4 linked regions of the Homo sapiens genome follow. The protein of the gene in region 2 purifies or fractionates together with the protein of the main gene of each other region. This does not show direct contact. Each region holds a gene or a part of one and is shown on either strand. Other genes may lie near its edges.

The links.
Region 1: the proteins of CNN2 (region 2) and MTAP fractionate together in Homo sapiens (co-fractionation; one large-scale study listed by BioGRID). This does not show direct contact.
Region 3: the proteins of CNN2 (region 2) and ALDH8A1 fractionate together in Homo sapiens (co-fractionation; one large-scale study listed by BioGRID). This does not show direct contact.
Region 4: the proteins of CNN2 (region 2) and CDA purify together in Homo sapiens (co-immunoprecipitation; one large-scale study listed by IntAct). This does not show direct contact.

The regions. Positions count from the first base shown.
Region 1 is NC_000009.12:21,860,970-21,865,363, forward strand, and holds part of MTAP (S-methyl-5'-thioadenosine phosphorylase), read left to right. Parts: intron 1-1,006; coding exon 1,007-1,045; 3' UTR 1,046-4,394. UniProt on the Homo sapiens protein: Catalyzes the reversible phosphorylation of S-methyl-5'-thioadenosine (MTA) to adenine and 5-methylthioribose-1-phosphate. Involved in the breakdown of MTA, a major by-product of polyamine biosynthesis.
Region 2 is NC_000019.10:1,028,979-1,033,899, forward strand, and holds part of CNN2 (calponin-2), read left to right. Parts: intron 1-2,092; coding exon 2,093-2,214; intron 2,215-3,413; coding exon 3,414-3,480; intron 3,481-3,580; coding exon 3,581-3,718; intron 3,719-4,921. UniProt on the Homo sapiens protein: Thin filament-associated protein that is implicated in the regulation and modulation of smooth muscle contraction. It is capable of binding to actin, calmodulin and tropomyosin. The interaction of calponin with actin inhibits the actomyosin Mg-ATPase activity.
Region 3 is NC_000006.12:134,932,452-134,937,372, forward strand, and holds part of ALDH8A1 (2-aminomuconic semialdehyde dehydrogenase), read right to left. Parts: intron 582-4,921; coding exon 325-581; intron 1-324. UniProt on the Homo sapiens protein: Catalyzes the NAD-dependent oxidation of 2-aminomuconic semialdehyde of the kynurenine metabolic pathway in L-tryptophan degradation.
Region 4 is NC_000001.11:20,587,834-20,591,896, forward strand, and holds the start of CDA (cytidine deaminase), read left to right. Parts: upstream 1-1,263; 5' UTR 1,264-1,296; coding exon 1,297-1,450; intron 1,451-4,063. UniProt on the Homo sapiens protein: This enzyme scavenges exogenous and endogenous cytidine and 2'-deoxycytidine for UMP synthesis.

The sequences.
Region 1 (4,394 bases), on a different chromosome or scaffold from region 2:
GTCAGGCTGGTCTTGAACTCCTGACCTCGTGATCCACCCGCTTTGGCCTCCCAAAGTGCTGGGATTACAGGCATGAGCCACTGCGCCCAGCCAAGTTTATTTTTTTTAAGTCTCCCAACTAACCCCACTTTGACCATAGTCTTTCAAAAGCTTGAAGTTAATTTCTCAAATAATATATTTACTGTTTTAGCTTTATTTTTAAGTAAAAATGCTTGAAGAGTAGAAATCAGTGTTCTCCTTTCCTGGAGCTTCTGAAATTGTAAAATTGTGTGATTTTATTTGTATGCATTTTTAAAGAGGCTTAGTTTACGTAGCTTTCATCGGATTTTCAAAGGAGGATTTTATATATATGTGTATATATATACACACATACATACATATACACACACACACATATAAAACCTAAAGAGAGAAAATGAGGAATTCCTGCTCTAGACAAAACTGAGAATCTTGGTCTTCATGCTACAGCATTAAGGAACACCATACTAATAATCCCTTTTTCTGGGGTAGTATTGTTAGCACTGAAATGTGTATCATTCATTCCCTCACTAAGTCATTTCAGAAACACTTAGCACCTGCTATACGTCAAGGTCTGGTTTGCAAAGATAAAGAGTTGTGATGATGATCCTATGGTGTTTGGAGATATAGACACATAAAAATTTCAATGATTTCTTACAGTGGGGTAAGGATAAGGGATAGAGGTTGCATAAACAATAATCCAGGCTGGGGGCTGGTATGGCAATAAGTGATTATCAGAACAATGCTCTGAGATAAGCATTATTAACCTCACTTTACAGGAAAGGGAGGTGAGGAACCAAGAGTTTAGAGTACCCGAAGTTCCACATCTGGTTAGTGAACTTGAAAATTTTCTGTAGAATTTATTTAAAGTGTATGTTTCCTGCGTCCTCACTTTGATCTAGAAAATCAAAATCTGTTTTTTTTTTTAACAAACATCTCAGTAATTACGCCAACATGTGAATATCACTGCCTCCTTTCTTCCTTTCAGAATATGGCCCAGTTTTCTGTTTTATTACCAAGACATTAAAGTAGCATGGCTGCCCAGGAGAAAAGAAGACATTCTAATTCCAGTCATTTTGGGAATTCCTGCTTAACTTGAAAAAAATATGGGAAAGACATGCAGCTTTCATGCCCTTGCCTATCAAAGAGTATGTTGTAAGAAAGACAAGACATTGTGTGTATTAGAGACTCCTGAATGATTTAGACAACTTCAAAATACAGAAGAAAAGCAAATGACTAGTAAACATGTGGGAAAAAATATTACATTTTAAGGGGGAAAAAAAAACCCACCATTCTCTTCTCCCCCTATTAAATTTGCAACAATAAAGGGTGGAGGGTAATCTCTACTTTCCTATACTGCCAAAGAATGTGAGGAAGAAATGGGACTCTTTGGTTATTTATTGATGCGACTGTAAATTGGTACAGTATTTCTGGAGGGCAATTTGGTAAAATGCATCAAAAGACTTAAAAATACGGACGTACTTTGTGCTGGGAACTCTACATCTAGCAATTTCTCTTTAAAACCATATCAGAGATGCATACAAAGAATTATATATAAAGAAGGGTGTTTAATAATGATAGTTATAATAATAAATAATTGAAACAATCTGAATCCCTTGCAATTGGAGGTAAATTATGTCTTAGTTATAATTAGATTGTGAATCAGCCAACTGAAAATCCTTTTTGCATATTTCAATGTCCTAAAAAGACACGGTTGCTCTATATATGAAGTGAAAAAAGGATATGGTAGCATTTTATAGTACTAGTTTTGCTTTAAAATGCTATGTAAATATACAAAAAAACTAGAAAGAAATATATATAACCTTGTTATTGTATTTGGGGGAGGGATACTGGGATAATTTTTATTTTCTTTGAATCTTTCTGTGTCTTCACATTTTTCTACAGTGAATTTAATCAAATAGTAAAGTTGTTGTAAAAATAAAAGTGGATTTAGAAAGATCCAGTTCTTGAAAACACTGTTTCTGGTAATGAAGCAGAATTTAAGTTGGTAATATTAAGGTGAATGTCATTTAAGGGAGTTACATCTTTATTCTGCTAAAGAAGAGGATCATTGATTTCTGTACAGTCAGAACAGTACTTGGGTTTGCAACAGCTTTCTGAGAAAAGCTAGGTGTTTAATAGTTTAACTGAAAGTTTAACTATTTAAAAGACTAAATGCACATTTTATGGTATCTGATATTTTAAAAAGTAATGTTTGATTCTCCTTTTTATGAGTTAAATTATTTTATACGAGTTGGTAATTTTTGCTTTTTAATAAAGTGGAAGCTTGCTTTTTTAACTCTTTTTTTATTGTTATTTTATAGAAATGCTTTTTGTTGGCCGGGCACAGTTGCTCATCCATGTAATCCCAGCACTGTGGGAGGCCGAGACGGGTGGATCACAAGGTCAGGAGATCGAGACCATCCTGGCTAATGCGTTGAAACTCCGTCTCTACTAAAAATACAAAAAATTAGCTGGGCGTGGTGGTGGGCACCTGTAGTCCCAGCTACTCAGGAGGCTGAGGCAGGAGAATGGTGTGAACCTGGGAGGTGGAGCTTGCAGTGAGCAGAGCTTGCAGTGAGACGAGCTTGTGCCACTGCACTCCAGCCTGGGCAACAGAGTAAGACTCAGTCTCAAAAAAAAAAAAAAGAGTGAAATGCTTTTTGTTTGCTTCAGTTTTTTATCATGGGGAGATCTTTTTCCTCAGAATTGTTTTCTTTTCACTGTAGGCTATTACAGGATACTTCAGGATCAAGATACAGAACCTTTTATTTAAAGAGTTTGTAAAGTCAATGTGTTTGTTTGTGTCTCTGAGATTGACTTCAAGATAATAAGCTGCTAATTGTAAACAAAACAGTTACCCTCCAGTATTAATATGACTCATTAGTGTGAGCCATTTGGGTCAAGTATGATTATGACCCTTGGACTTCCTGATGTAGTATTAAATTTCAACTCTGGTTATCCATTAGCAATCTGTAGAGAACTTAATGAACCTGAACCCAGGCTTCTCTAGCTCTGGTAACGTGTGATTGTTTTCACTACAATATGATACATAGATGGTACCTTACTTTTCCTCATTCTTAATAGGTGTCTAAGAATGTCAGGGCAAAAGTATGGGCATTTTTCTTGCTATGTTCAGAAAGTACAGTTCTCTCCAACTTGCAGAGGTACTTTTCTTGATTAAATAGCCTTCTCTAGCAACATCATTTTCAGACTAACTAAATGAATGCAGTATACTCTTTTCTTTGTTCTCAATCATTCACTCCTTATGCAAAGCCAATATAATTTTCCTCATACCTTATGCTTGAGGATATTGTTGAAGAACACTTCCTGGAACACTTCTCACTTGTGATGCTGTACTAATTTTTTTTTTTTAATTTAAGCTAGTATACTAAGTGAACACCATGGTCAGTTGTGAGCATTTTGGTTTCCGCAAAGGATGGATGGTGAGCATCATGGGAAAGCTGTAGTTTAGTGACTTAGCCCTTAGTGATTAATAGATTTGCATGTACATAGAAGTCTTTGTTGGCCTTATAATCTGCTGTTATATTTGGCATGGATTTTCATGGTTTTGAGAATGACATCCTGGCCCTGTGGTCCCCGAGGGTCATGGTCCTTGTGACCTGGCCCCTGTTCACTGCCCCCTTCGCTAGCACGAGTTGCTGTGCAGGGCTGGAGGTAGCTACCATGGCTTGTTTCAAGGAAGGAAACTCTGGTACGGTGGCACCCTCAGGAGTGGAGGACAGTGAACTTCCTTGAAGAGGGAGTGACTAAGGTGACCTCCAACCTGCCCTGAGCCAGCTGCCCTGCAGGTGCCACGTGAGCCTGCTCTGGCATCCACAGGATGCTCCTGGAGCCTCTTCTCTGGCTGCTACCTCAGGGCATGGTTGTGGCCCCACCAACACCTATTTTCCAAATAATTATTCATTCTTGTGACAGTGGCCTGAACATGTTTTTAATTTTCTCAACAAGCATTTAGCCAGCACTTATCCAGTGAAACAATTTGATAAGGTTTCAAGGAGTATCTGATGGGTTAGGAAGTCACGAAATGAGGAGTTCTTGCCACATTTGCAGAGTCCCTCCTTGATAAGGTTTGGCGGTGTCCCCACCCAAATCTCATGTTGAATTGTAGTTCCCATAATCCCCACATGTTGTGGGAGGGACCCAGTGGGAGGTAATTAAATCATGGGGGTGGTTACCCCCACACTGCTGTTCTCATGATACTGAGTTCTCACAAGTCCTGTTTGTTTTATAAGGGGCTTTTCCCCCTTTTGCTCAACACTTCTTCCTGCCATCATGTGAAGAAGGACGTGTTTGTTTCCCCTTCTGCCACGATTGTAAGTTTCCTGAGGCCTTCCCAGCTATGTGGAACTGTG
Region 2 (4,921 bases):
CCTAACCCAAATAATCCCAGGCAGGTCCAGGTCAGGGGACCCTATCCCAAATAATCCCAGGCAGGTCCAGCTCAGGGGACCCTAACCCAAATCATCCCAGGCAGGTCCAGCTCAGGGGACCCTAACCCAAATCATCCCAGGCAGGTCCAGCTCAGGGGACCCTAACCCAAATCATCCCAGGCAGGTCCAGCTCAGGGGACCCTACCCAAATCATTCCAGGCAGATCTAGCTCAGGGGACCCTAACCCAAATCATCCCAGGCAGGTCCAGCTCAGGGGACCCTAACCCAAATCATCCCAGGCAGGTCCAGCTCAGGGGACCCTAACCCAAATCATCCCAGGCAGGTCCAGGTCAGGGGACCCTACCCAAATCATCCCAGGCAGGTCTAGCTCAGGGGACCCTAACCCAAATCATCCCAGGCAGGTCCAGCTCAGGGGACCCTAACCCAAATCATCCCAGGCAGGTCCAGCTCAGGGGACCCTAACCCAAATCATCCTAGGCAGGTCCAGCTCAGGGGACCCTAACCCAAATCATCCCAGGCAGGTCCAGCTCAGGGGACCCTAACCCAAATCATCCCAGGCAGGTCCAGGTCAGGGGACCCTAACCCAAATAATCCCAGGAAGAGATGAGGAAGCGGAGGCTGAGTGGGGAGCTGTCCGCGGGAACCTGGGGAGATGGGTGCAGAGCAGGGAGAGGGATTTGATTTTTTTTTTCCTTCTCTCTTTTCTTTCTTTTTTTTTTTAAGACAGAGGCTCACTCTGTTCCAGGCTGGAGTGAAGTGGCCCGATCTTGGCTCACTGCCTCCTCTGCCTCCTGGGTTCAAGCGATTCTCCTGCCTCAGCCTCCCAAGTAGCTGGGACTACAGGTGCCCACCACCACGCCCAGCTCATTTTTGTATTTTAGTACAGACGGGATTTCACCATGTGGGCTAGGCCAGTCTCGAACTCCTGACCTCAGATGATCCGCCCGCCTTGGCCTCCCAAAGTGCTGGGATTGTAGGTGTGAGCCACCGCACCCAGCCCAAACCCTACTTTATTCTCCCTCCAGCGTTTATCTCCCGCTCCCGCTACACGACCTGCCCCCATGCTTATGGCCCCCTATACACTTTGCCGTCTGCCTCAGTGCTGTCTCCGCGGTCACTAGTGGCTGGATAGGGACACTCGAGGTCCCCACTGGTGCACACCCACTGCCCAGGAGCACACAGCCCATTCCCCACGGCGGTGTCTCAGAGCACCGAAGGCCAAGAAAGCTGGAATGGCCGGGTGCAGAAAGGTGGCAGGGAATCGGTGGCAAGGAGCCAGGTGCGTGACTAGAGGCGGTCAGCCTCGGGGGCAGCTCCTTCGGGAGTTGCTAAGAAGCAGGATGGGGGCCGGGCGCGGTGGCTCACACCTGTAATCCCAGCACTTTGGAGGGCTGAGACGGGCAGATCACGAGGTCAGGAGATGGAGACCATCTTGGCTAACACGGTGAAACCCCGTCTCTATTAAAAATACAAAAAATGAGCTGGGCCTGGTGGCGGGCGCCTGCAGTCCCAGCTACTCGGGAGGCTGAGGCAGGAGAATGGCCTGAACCGGGGAGGCGGAGCTTGCAGTGAGCCGAGATCGCACCACTGCACTCCAGCCTGGGCGACAGAGTGAGACTCTGTCTCAAAAAAAATAAAAAAGAAAAAAGAGCTGATGGTTGCACAACATTGCAGACGTACGAAATGCTGTGAAATGGTGCGGTTTCAGGTGGTTGAAGTGGTAAACGTCAGGTGTGATATAGCGGGGAGGTGAGAAGGCAGGGCGGGGAGGCAGATCCGGCCAGGTTTGTCCTGCACCGGGAGTGGATTAGAGCTGATGTTTATCAGTGAGTTCTAAGCCGGTTGTCGGCCTGCTTGGAGGGCGGTTTATCTGTGCCCGCCTGCAGTGGCTGGGGCGCCCCCAATGATGGGAAAAGGGAGCATCTGCGTGGGTGTGGTGAGGGGGGACCTCCAGGCCGCTCTATCTGCTGTTGCCCTGGAGTCCCCGGCCCCACCCTCTGCAGAGCTTCTGTGGGGTTCCTGCTGGGGGTGCCCCCAGCCCAGCTCAGTCTCGTGCCCTTTGCTCCACCAGCTCCTGTCCAAATATGACCCCCAGAAGGAGGCAGAGCTCCGCACCTGGATCGAGGGACTCACCGGCCTCTCCATCGGCCCCGACTTCCAGAAGGGCCTGAAGGATGGAACTATCTTATGCACGTGAGTACACGCAGGGACACAGGCTGTCTCACACTTAACAAATCTTGGTTTTTCTCACTTTTTTTCTTAATTAAGAAATTTTTGGGGGGCCGGGCATGGCCTGGCTCATGCCTGTAATCCCAGCACTTTTGGAGGCCGAGGGTGGTGGCGGGGGGCGGTGGATCTCGAGGTCAGGAGTTCGAGACCAGCCTGGCCAACATGGTGAAACCCCGTCTGTACTAATAATACAAAAAAATTAGCCAGGCACCTGTAATCCCAGCTACTCAGGAGGCTGAGGAAGGAGAATTGCTTGAACCCGGGAGGCGGAGGTTGCAGTGAGCCGAGATCACACCATTGCACTCCAGCCGGGGTGACACAGCGAGACTCCATCTCAAAAAAAAAAAAAAAAAAAAAAAAAAGTTAGCTGGGCGTGGTGGCTAAATAAATAATTTTTTTTTTTTGAGGTGGAGTCTCACTCTGTTGCCCAAGCTGGAGTGCAGTGGCATGATCTCGGCTCACTGCAACCTCCACCTCCTGGGTTCAAGTGATTCCCCTGCCTCAGCCTCCCGAGTAGCTGGGATTACAGGCGACTGCCACCATGCCCGGCTAATTTTTTTTGTATATTTAGTAGAGATGGGGTTGCTCCATGTTGGCCAGGCTGGTCTTGAGCCCTTGACGTCACGTGATCTGCCTGCCTCGGCCTTCCAAAGTGCTGGGCTTACAGGCCTGAGCCACCAAACCCAGCCAAAGATTACTTTATAAGAGTGGAAACTTGAGGCCTGGGATGGTGGCTCACGCTTGTAATCCCAGCACTTTGGGAGGTTGAGGTGGACGGATCACGAGGTCAGGAGATCGAGACCAGCCTGGACAACATGGTGAAACTCCATCTCTACTAAAAATGCAAAAATTAGCCGGGTGTGGTGGCAGGCACCTGTAATCCCAGCTACTCGGGAGGCTCAGGGCTGAGGCAGGAGAATCACTTGAACCCGGGAGGTGGAGGTGGCAGTGAGTCTAGATAGTGCCATTGCACTCTAGTCTGGGTGACAGAGCTAGACGCCGTCTCAAAAAAAAAAAAAAAAAGAGTGGAAACTGAGGCCCAGAGAGAGGCCGTGAGTTTGCCCAGGAAGGCGTGAGCTTGGCTGAGATCAGCATCGGGTCTTCACGGTTCCTCGCTGCTCACAGAGGTTTCTGTTTCCCCCGCCCCATGTTGTGCCCTCCAGACTCATGAACAAGCTACAGCCGGGCTCCGTCCCCAAGATCAACCGCTCCATGCAGAACTGGCACCAGGTGAGGGGCTGGTGGAGCGGAGCAGGGATGGTGCTGGGGGCCCATCTAACAGGTGGGGAGACTGAGGCCCACTCACTGTCCCTCTCCTGCCTCTTCCCAGCTAGAAAACCTGTCCAACTTCATCAAGGCCATGGTCAGCTACGGCATGAACCCTGTGGACCTGTTCGAGGCCAACGACCTGTTTGAGAGTGGGAACATGACGCAGGTGCAGGTGTCTCTTCTCGCCCTGGCGGGGAAGGTGAGGCCCAGAGAGGGGCAGCCACCTGCCCAGAGTCACACAGCGAGGTGGATGTAGCTGCTGCATTCACTCGTTTGCAAATTTCTGTTTGTTTATTTTTGAGTCGGAGTCTCACTCTGTCACTCAGGCTGGAGTGCAATGGCGTGATCTCAGCTCACTGCAACCTCCAACTCCCAGGTTCAAGCGATTCTTCTGCCTCAGTCTCCCGAGTAGCTGGGATTACAGGCACCTGCCACCACGCCTGGCTAATTTTTGTATTTTTAGTGGAGACTGGGTTTCACCATGCTGGCCAGGCTGGTCTTGAACTCTTGACTTCAGGTGATCCGCCCGCCTCGGCCTCCCCAAGTGCTGGGATTACAGGCATGAGCCCCTGTGCCCGGCCTCGTTTACAAATATTTCTGAGCATCCGTGAGGTGCCAGGTACTTCAGATTCCTTGGTGAACAGGAAGGACATGGTCTACCCCTTATGCAGTTCAGTCTGATGGCGGAGGCATGCAAAAGTGAACACAGCATTGTATTATGCATTATATGTAAGCTCTGGCCGGGCGCAGTGGCTCACACCTGTAATCCCAGCACTTTGGGAGGCCGAGGTTGGAGAATTGCTTGACACCAGGAGTTCGAGACCAGCCTGGCCAACATGGTGAAACCCCATCTCTACTAAGAAAACAAAAATTACCTGGGCGTGGTGGTGCATGCCTGTAATCCCAGCTACTCGGGAGGCTGAGCCCAGGAGTTAAGAGGTTGCAGTGAGCTATGACCACACCACTGCTCTCCAGCCTGGGCAACAGAGCAAGACTCTCTCAAAAAATAATCATAACAAAAGTAATAAATAAGCTCTGAACTGGGAGAAATGCCTTGAAGGAGAAGAATCAGACGAATGTTGAGTGTCTAGTGATCTTCAAACCCAGACCGGGAGCGTGGGTGGGACAGTGGTGTAGACCGGGAGCGTGGGTGGGACAGTGTCTGGTGTAGACCGGGAGCGTGGGTGGGACACGGTGTCTGGTGTAGACCGGGAGCGTGGGTGGGACACGGTGTCTGGTGTAGACGGGGAGCGTGGGTGGGACGGTGTCTGGTGTAGACCGGGAGCGTGGGTGGGACACGGTGTCTGGTGTAGACGGGGAGCGTGGGTGGGACGGTGTCTGGTGTAGACCGGCAGCGTGGGTGGGACACGGTGTCTGGTGTAGACCGGGAGCGTGGGTGGGA
Region 3 (4,921 bases), on a different chromosome or scaffold from region 2:
AAAGACAAGACAGGGCAGCTGTGTGAATAAAGAAATGGAGATGCTTGGAGCAGCAACATCAATCATTCCACCCATGGCTGGTACCTGATAAAAGCTGTGCAACTCAAGAAGAGGAGTTTGCTGAACAGAAGCTGTGACTCTGCAAGGCCACTAATTAATGTTAAAATTGAGCAGAGAGTTAAGGGAATCACACAATGTACTGATCCTGCTTTCTCGGAAATGGCACTGGATTGACTGGCTTGCTCCCAGGCATTGCACTGTGATAAAACAGATCCAGCTTGACAGGGCCATGGAGGGGAGGGAGAAGAACCCCCGGGGACATACCTGGTTGGCAAAGCTGGACCTGACGGTTGCCGGAATGCACTCATCCAGGTTGGCGTCCTCAAAGATGATGGCAGGATTCTTGCCCCCCAGCTCCAGGGAGAGCTTTTTGCAGTGGGGAGCGCTCAGCTGGGTGATCCGCTCAGCGGTGGGCTGGCTCCCGGTGAAGGAGATCAGGGGCACCTCTGGGTGGGACACCAGGGCCTCACCCACCCTGGGCCCGGTTCCAAACACAATATTGACCACACCTGGTGGAACACCTGGATAGGAAACAGTATCAGTTATAGTAATTCTCAGTATGTTGAAGAGTTCAAGTTACTTGGAAATTCTCCTTTAAAGTCCAATCGCTTGAATGGGAGTGGGTAGGGATGGAGGAAGCACTTGGGTTTTACAACACTTGGAACTTCTATGGCTGCCTCTGGTTTAATAGCAAAGCAAAAACCACAGATTCACCTCTGCCCACAGTAAACACCAGGTGGGATTCCACTGGATGCTTTGCCCTAGAGAGATGCAGGGTGGAACATATTTTAGGTGATTCATTCCATAATACTGGCTAGGCCTTAGGGGTTGAGGATGCAGAGATAGTCTCAGGCAGGTCAAGCCCACTAGGGGAGCAGCACCCTGCTCCATCTTGGTGTCCAGGAGTCACAATGCTGTGTGAAAACATTAAGTAGAGAGGTGTATACATGCTGCAGAGGTGCAAAGAAGAGATTGACTATCTTGGCCCAGGGAAGCAGGGCAAGACTCCCCAGGGAGGGTGGGTTTCAGGTTGGAAGTCATGTCCACCATGCTTATAAATAGCATCATAACACTGTAGTGCCAACTTACAAGTACCACAAACAACCAAAAATGGGTGCCCCAATCTTTTCTATCACAAGACTCTGCTACCCTGTATCTTCGTGCATTTATGCATGTGTTTTCTTGTTTTATTATTTTATTTATTTATTTATTTTTGAGATGGAGTCTGGCTCTATTGCCAAGGCTGCAGTGCAGTGGCACCATCTCGGCTCACTGCAACCTCTGCCTCCCAGGTTCAAGAGATTCTCCTGCCTCAGCCTCCCGAGTAGCTGGGATTACAGGCGTGCACCATTACACCTGGCTAAATTTTGTATTTTTAGTAGAGAGGGGATTTCATCATGTTGGCCAGGCTGGTCTCGAACTCCTGACCTCAAGTGATCTGCCCACCTCGGCCTGCCAAAGTACTAGGATTACAGGCATGAGCCACCGCGCCCAGCCTATCCATGATGTTTTCTGGACTTACTTGTTCATTGCCTGCACACAACTAGAAGGTACACTAGCTAAGGGCAGAAACAGTGTCTGTTCTTTGCTCTCCGTTGTTTACTCTGTGCCACAGCCTAGTTTGGCATTGAGAAATAAAAATAAAATCCTAAGCTCCCCCAGTTGACTGAATGCAGCCTCTCTTGGCCAAAGCGATCCCAGAGAAACCTTAAAAACTGAGTTCCCAGCCATTATGGGATGAGAGGTCAAACACGCCATAGTATGACTCTTCCTTATTAATCTTTAACCAGAATTCTTTCCTCAGTGTAAGCAGAAACCAGCTCTAAAAAACAAGAAATGGATAATCTATTCCTTTATCGCCTTTAGCTAACCATCTGAAACTGCAACCAAATTTTCCTCCCTCTTTGCAGTTTGGATGTGACAGCTCACCAGTCTCACAACACATCCCTTCCTAAAAACTGATCACCATCTCGACTGGTTTTGGCTGACTTCCCGAGGATACGTAGTGAGGGTTTTCATGTCCTCTGCTTCACCTTTTGACATCAGAGGGCCAAAAACTCAACCCTCGGAACATGCTAAGGCTGCCATTTTTTGAGCACGTGATCCAGAATTCATGTCCACCATGTATATAAACGCATCATAACACTGTTATATAACACTACTCAGGAGGCTGAGGCAGGAGAATCTCTTGAACCCAGGAGGCAGAGGTTGCAGTGAGCCGAGATGGTGCCACTGCACTCCAGCCTTGGCAATGCAGCCAGACTCCATCTCAAAAATAAATAAATAAATGAAATAATAAAACAAGAAAACACATGCATAAATGCATGAAGATACAGGGTAGCAGAGTCTTGTGATAGAAAAGATTGGGGCACCCATTTTTGGTTGTTTGTGTTACTTGTAAGTTGGCCCTACAGTTTTATGAGCGCATTAAGCTCATCTGTGCATGCACCTGTTTCCCCTTTCATAAATATTCATGACTCCTCCCATATCCTACTGAATGTGAATATTCAGCCACTCTGCTCAGGATAAATTTCTGTTCCCTTTGCCCCTCCTCCAAGTACTTGTTCTCCGCTTTGGGCAGAGGCTACGCTTCCCAGCCTGCAAGATGGCTAGCCTGCAGGCTGCAACCCTTTATAAGAAATAAAACCCTCCTTTCCAAATGCATGAACCTTATGATTCTTCAGTTGATAGCACATGGAACTCAGACCAGTAAATGCAAACATTAGATAGGGTGCTTACTGTGGACTCATCACTGCTATCCGTGACTCACACACTTCAGTCTTCACAACAACCTTAGGATGTAGGTAGTTTTATTACACTTAGTTCACCAGGAAGAAATTTGAGGGAAAGTGAGATTGAATAACAATCAGTAAGCAGCAAAGCTGACAGGTTAATGACTGTTAAGTAAATGAATGAGTGAATGAATGCTTAGTGTACGTTATTCAAATTAGAAATGGTTCATGAATGGGGAAGCTTTAAAAAGAAAATCATCTTTATAATATCCAAAAAGAAAGTCATCTGTATAATCACGCTGTGTCTAGGCAGTTCTTAGGGTCTGCCTGGAGGTAGCAGAGTTTATTCCCTCTATTTCCTCAGGCCTGACCTACGGTAGGTGCAGAAATCTTGCAGCATCTCGGCTTTGTGACCTGCTTCCTTGCTTCTGGTTTCCTTCCCTTTGCTCCAGGTTAGACAATCTCTCCTCATTAGAAACATACTCCTTTGGATACAACCCATTTCTTCCAGAATCTACTTTTAAATTATAAATAATATAAATACTAATTTCACACTGATGATCCATTATCATCCAGAACATTCTCCCATACAGCCACAGCCTTGGCCCAATCACCTTGAAGCTACAGTGAAGGTCCCATCCCAGTGAGTCCTCAGGAGACAGGTGGGAAGATTCCACAAGTTGTGATGGTGCCTAGCAGAGCCCCACTTCTTTTTTTTTTTTTTTTGAGATGGAGTCTCGCTCTGTCACCCAGGCTGGAGTGCAAAGGCGCAATCTCTGCTCTCTGCAACCTCCGCCTCCTAGGTTCAAGCGATTTTCCCACCTCAGCCTCCTAAGTAGCTGGGATTACCGGCACTTGCCATCATCCCCAGCTAGTTTTTGTATTTTGGTAGAGATGGGATTTCACCACGTTAGCCAGGTTGGTCTTGAACTCCTGACCTCAGGTGATCCACCCACCTTGGCCTCCCAAAGTGCTGGGATTACAGGCATAAGCCACCATGCCTGGCCAAAGCACCACTTCTAAGCATTGCATCTCTTTACCCAACATGCACATTTGTTGAAATCTAGCTTAGGTCAGTCCTGGATTGTAGGTCACTGTCAGAGGAGTGGCTGGCACCATGTGAGAGCACCCCAGCTTTGGGTTGGGGCAAAGGAAAGTGTGGAAGGAGAGGATCCCCCTCAGTAGGTGATGCGACGAAACAAGGACAAGTCTCCCACAGTTTCCTGGGTAGGGCCCCACATCTCCACCAGTGATGGGGCATGCATGTGGGTGGATGGGGTGTGGGGCAGGAGGGGGTGGACTGTTAGGCTTTATCAATCCTGAAGGCAAAAAATGAATGGAATCACTGCTAATGTTCAGAGTAGCATTTTAACTGAGGGTGAGAGAGAATGCGGAAGCACTGCATATTTATCCCCACAGTAAAATGCGCTCACTGCGGCAGCGGATTGCTTTCCCCACGACAGTATTATCATTTTGACTACATTCCCTTGGGCTTGGATGCTAATGTCAGCTGGCCATTATTTCTCAGTACCATTTTGACATTTTATCCAGAAATTAATGGAATTTTTCTTGAGATGTCTGCCCTCTAACCTTGAAGAGATTCTGGTGATAAGAGAAGGAAAGCAGTTTAACTGACAAATAGCAATTTAGCAAAACTCAGGGGAGGTGGCTAACAGACAAGTTAGGAACAGACGAGAACAGACTAGAAGGAAACCCCTCAAATGTAGGGGCTTGGCAGGGTGGCAACAAGAAAAATTTTAGGCTTAAATAGAGCACACACACACACCCACCTACACACACACATCTCCTGCTCCACACACACACCTAATGGGAAGGGCCAGGAAAACGCAGTCAGTGGGCACTCCAGGAATGAGGGCAAATTTCCAAGAAGAAATGACTATTCCAGGAATCCCACAGAAGTATTCACTGTGTCATCTTAAAAATGAGTTTATTTTAAAGGAAGTTTATCTGTCAAGTCTGTTTAAATGCCCAGGACTAGAGGAGCTAACTCTTTAAACATCCAGAACGAATTAGTTATTTTCGCTTTTCCCTCCCCTACTAAAAGCTTCTCTTACGTTGCTCTAAAGCAGATGACACAGATGTGGTTCGCATTCCTTCCAATCCCAGTG
Region 4 (4,063 bases), on a different chromosome or scaffold from region 2:
CCAGACTCTCCAGCCACACCCATTGTACACGCATTATCTCATTCAATCCTCATGACAACTCTGGAAGTGAAATCATGTTAGTGCACCCATTTTGCAGATGAGGACACTGAGGCTTAGGGAGATGGTGTGTGACCTTCCCAATGTCATATGTCTAATAAATGGCAGGAATGGAATTCAAACCATGGTTTACTAAACTCCAAAGCTGGAGCCCTTCTACAGTCTCAGGATCTAGAACAGGGATTATTACTATCTCTGCTGTTGACATGAGGAAACTGTGGTTCAGGGAGGTCAAGTGACCTGCCAAAGCTTGTACACATGGAAAGTAGTAGAACCAGGATGCAAACACATTTCTTTACCACCAACACCAATATCTATTTTGCCAACAAAACAATGAGGGGGCCTGAGTAAATAATCTCAACGGTTAACTCCACCCTCCAATTGAGATACTTTTTTTTTTTTTTTTTTTTTTTGAGACAGGGTCTGGCTCTCTGTCACCCAGGCTGGAATGCAGTGGTGCAATCTGAGCTCACTGCAGCCTCTGCCTCCTGGGTTCAAGCCATCCTCCCACCTCAGCTTCCCAAGTAGCTAGGACTACAGGCACATGCCACCATGCCCAGCTAATTTTTGTATTTTTTGTAGAAACAGGGTTTTGCCATATTGCCAAGGCTGTTCTCAAACTCCTGGGCTCAAGCAGTCCTCCTGCCTCAGCCTCCTAAAGTGAGCCACCACACCCAGCAGCTGAGACACTTTTTAATTCTGGGCTAGGGCAAAGAGAAGTTGGAAGGAAAATGGGTGAAAATAAAGAAGTTCTCAGTTATACTGCAGCTTGTTCATGCCTCCTGCCTCGGGATGCCGCAGTGGCTGCCCCAGCCCTGCCCTTTCAGCCTCAGCCCTTCCCTCAGTGAAGGAGAGAAAAAGTGATTTAACAAAGTGAGGACTGTCAGCCCTTGGAGCTTGGACCTTTGAGATCTCACACTGCCCCACCCAGTAGCTTCCCCTTCCAGTAGCGTGGCACCACCTTCTGACCCACCCCTCAGTGTGTCCACCAGTGAGAGTGGTTCCTAAGGGAGAGTGTGAAGCACACGTAGGCACTGTCTTACACCACACCTGCTGAGTCCAAACCATGGGAGGCTCCTCTCCTAGACCCTGCATCCTGAAAGCTGCGTACCTGAGAGCCTGCGGTCTGGCTGCAGGGACACACCCAAGGGGAGGAGCTGCAATCGTGTCTGGGGCCCCAGCCCAGGCTGGCCGGAGCTCCTGTTTCCCGCTGCTCTGCTGCCTGCCCGGGGTACCAACATGGCCCAGAAGCGTCCTGCCTGCACCCTGAAGCCTGAGTGTGTCCAGCAGCTGCTGGTTTGCTCCCAGGAGGCCAAGAAGTCAGCCTACTGCCCCTACAGTCACTTTCCTGTGGGGGCTGCCCTGCTCACCCAGGAGGGGAGAATCTTCAAAGGTAAAGGTGGGCACCCCAGGGTCCCCCAGCCCAGCAGCCTGGGTGGTGGGTCAGAGGAAGATGTACAGGAAGAGGCGCAGAGGCACAGGCAGTGGCAAGAGCGCGGCTCTGTCCCTTCTTCCCCCAGTCTCCGCTGGAATGTTCCTACCCTGCCGACTGCCCCAGACCGCGCTCAAATGTGGCTTAAATCCAGGGTCTTTCAATGCTTAGAGGACTGGGATGAGGAAGGAAGTTGGATGGGAGGCAGGAAGGGGAGGCCATAAATCAAAAACATCAACAGTCCTGGGGTGCAGGCAGGGAGAGCGTTCGTGCTTTCCCAGCCTCGGATATGTCTGGCACCTTACTGAGGCTTCCACAACACTAAGTCCACACCTCCTGCCCACTGACCTAAGTGTTAATGCTCGTCTTTAGATGAAACTACGGAGGTCTCGAGAGGTGACATGACTTGCCCAAGGTCACACGGGGCGCTGGTGGTGAAACCCTGGGCTGGAGGTTCCCCAAAGCCCTGCTCTCTTCCTTCCACCCACTGTGCTCAGTGCTGGCCAGGGTGGTGACGTGTTTGTCGGGGGTGGTCGGTGGAGAATCTTGGAGGAGAAAAGCCAGCTGGGCTTTCGGAGTCCAGCAGTGAGCAGCGCCCTGCGGGGCGGGGGCGGGTAATGGAACCTGAGCCCATCTGAGTCTGCTCTAATCTGTTCCTAAACTCTTTTCTTTGATTTATTGCTTTTGTAGAAAAGTTCATGTGAGCAAAAATTCAAGCTTGTTTTTGCTAAGCTTAGAGGCATTCTCCTTCAGGGCAGTAGGGGACATGGTGTGGAGGTACCCCTTGGTATTATTCCCTGTCTGTTGAGGTTCTGTCGGGTGTGACTTGCCTGGGTCTTAAACATCTTTGAGTGGGAGAAGCAGGTTTGATTGAGTGCTAACAGCCTGTGAAAGGAAGGTGATTAATGCTATCCATTTAACCCCTGCAACCCTGAAAGGCAGAGAAGGAAACAGGTTTGGAAAGTTTCAGAGCTCAAAATCACAGAGCTGGGATTGGAACCCAGACTTCCCCTGACTCCAAAAGCTGTTGCTCTGTGGGGAGTGAAGGATCTCTGAGTACCGTGTTGAAATTCAGACCTGTTTTGGTGGCTGAGGTGAATATTAAACATTAACCACCACCACAAACAACAAACATTCACCACCACCGCAAACACCATTGCAACTCACAACATTGCAGAATCTTGAATGTGGAAATCAGCCCTTGATTCTTTCGAAAGCCTCCACATCCTTTCCAGATGGCACAGAAAGGGCCCTCCTACAATCCCCCGGCACCCACACTGACCCCTCCTGCCGTGCTTATCACATGGTGTCATCACTGTCCACTTATGTATCTGCCTCTCCCTTGGGACTTTGTGCTGCAGAGGGCAGGAGCTGTGTCTTGAATCTTTGTGCCATTGACTTTCTCGTGCTGTGACGTAGCACCTGCCTGGCTCAGAACAGGCACTCAATAACTGTTGAGTGACTGATTGGATGAATGAATGAGATGAGTACGTTTGGAGAAGCAGAAGGAAGAGGGATGGTGGGGCAGGTGGTGGTGATGGGGGCTCAGCATGTTCGGCCACAGCATTTCCTGGCCTGTGGGGCCAGCATGGCTGCCTTCCATCCATGCTTTCCAGCACTGGAACTGGTGTTCTGCTTGGAACAGCAGGAGGTCAGACAGCCTCATCGTGCCTCCAGAGCCAGGGGACCCCCATGCCAGAATGCTTGGGTCCTTTCTTGTTTTAAAACCCACAATAGTCGGGCATGGTGGCTCACGCCTGTAACCCCAGCACTTTGGGAGGCCGAGGCAGGCGGATCACGATGTCAGGAGATCGAGACCATCCTGGCTAACACGGTGAAACTCCATCTCTACTAAAAATACAAAAAAAAATAGCCGGGCGTGGTGATGGGTGCCTGTAGTCCCAGCTACTCGGGAGGCTGAGGCAGGAGAATGGTGTGAACCTGGGAGGCGGAGCTTGCAGAGAGCCGAGATCGTGCCACTGCACTCCAGCCTGGGCGACAGAGCGAGACTCTGTCTCAAAAACAAACAAACAAAAAAAAACAAACCCACAATAAAGGAGGCACACTTTCACTCATAAGTGACACCTGGGAGCTCCTTCCAGTGAAGTCCACACCTCTGTCACCCTCATACTGATCATTCAACAGATATTTGCTGAACATCAACTCTGTTCCAGGTAAGGTGCCAGGTGCTGGGGATATCACAGTGAACAGGGATGACACAATCCCTGCCCCCATGGCAGTCCCCTCATATTGCATAGGTGATGACTGAAGGCTCGAGCCTCATCCAGTGGAAGGAAGGAATGGAGGAGATAAACAGGACTGTGGCCCATTTGCATTGCAGGGAAAGACCTGGTGTCACCAGAGAAAGGGTTGTGTGATGGGGATTTAGAGAGTGAAATGGAGGCTTCAGAGTCAGAGGTTCCTGGGTTGGAAGGCTGGTGTTTATCAACTGTGTGACTCTGGGTGAGACCCTTCACCTTTCTGAGTGTCAGCTCATACATTTTATTTATTTATGGGTTTTTTTTTGTTTTTTTTTTTTGAGATGGAGTCTCACTCTGTCACCCAGGCTGGAGT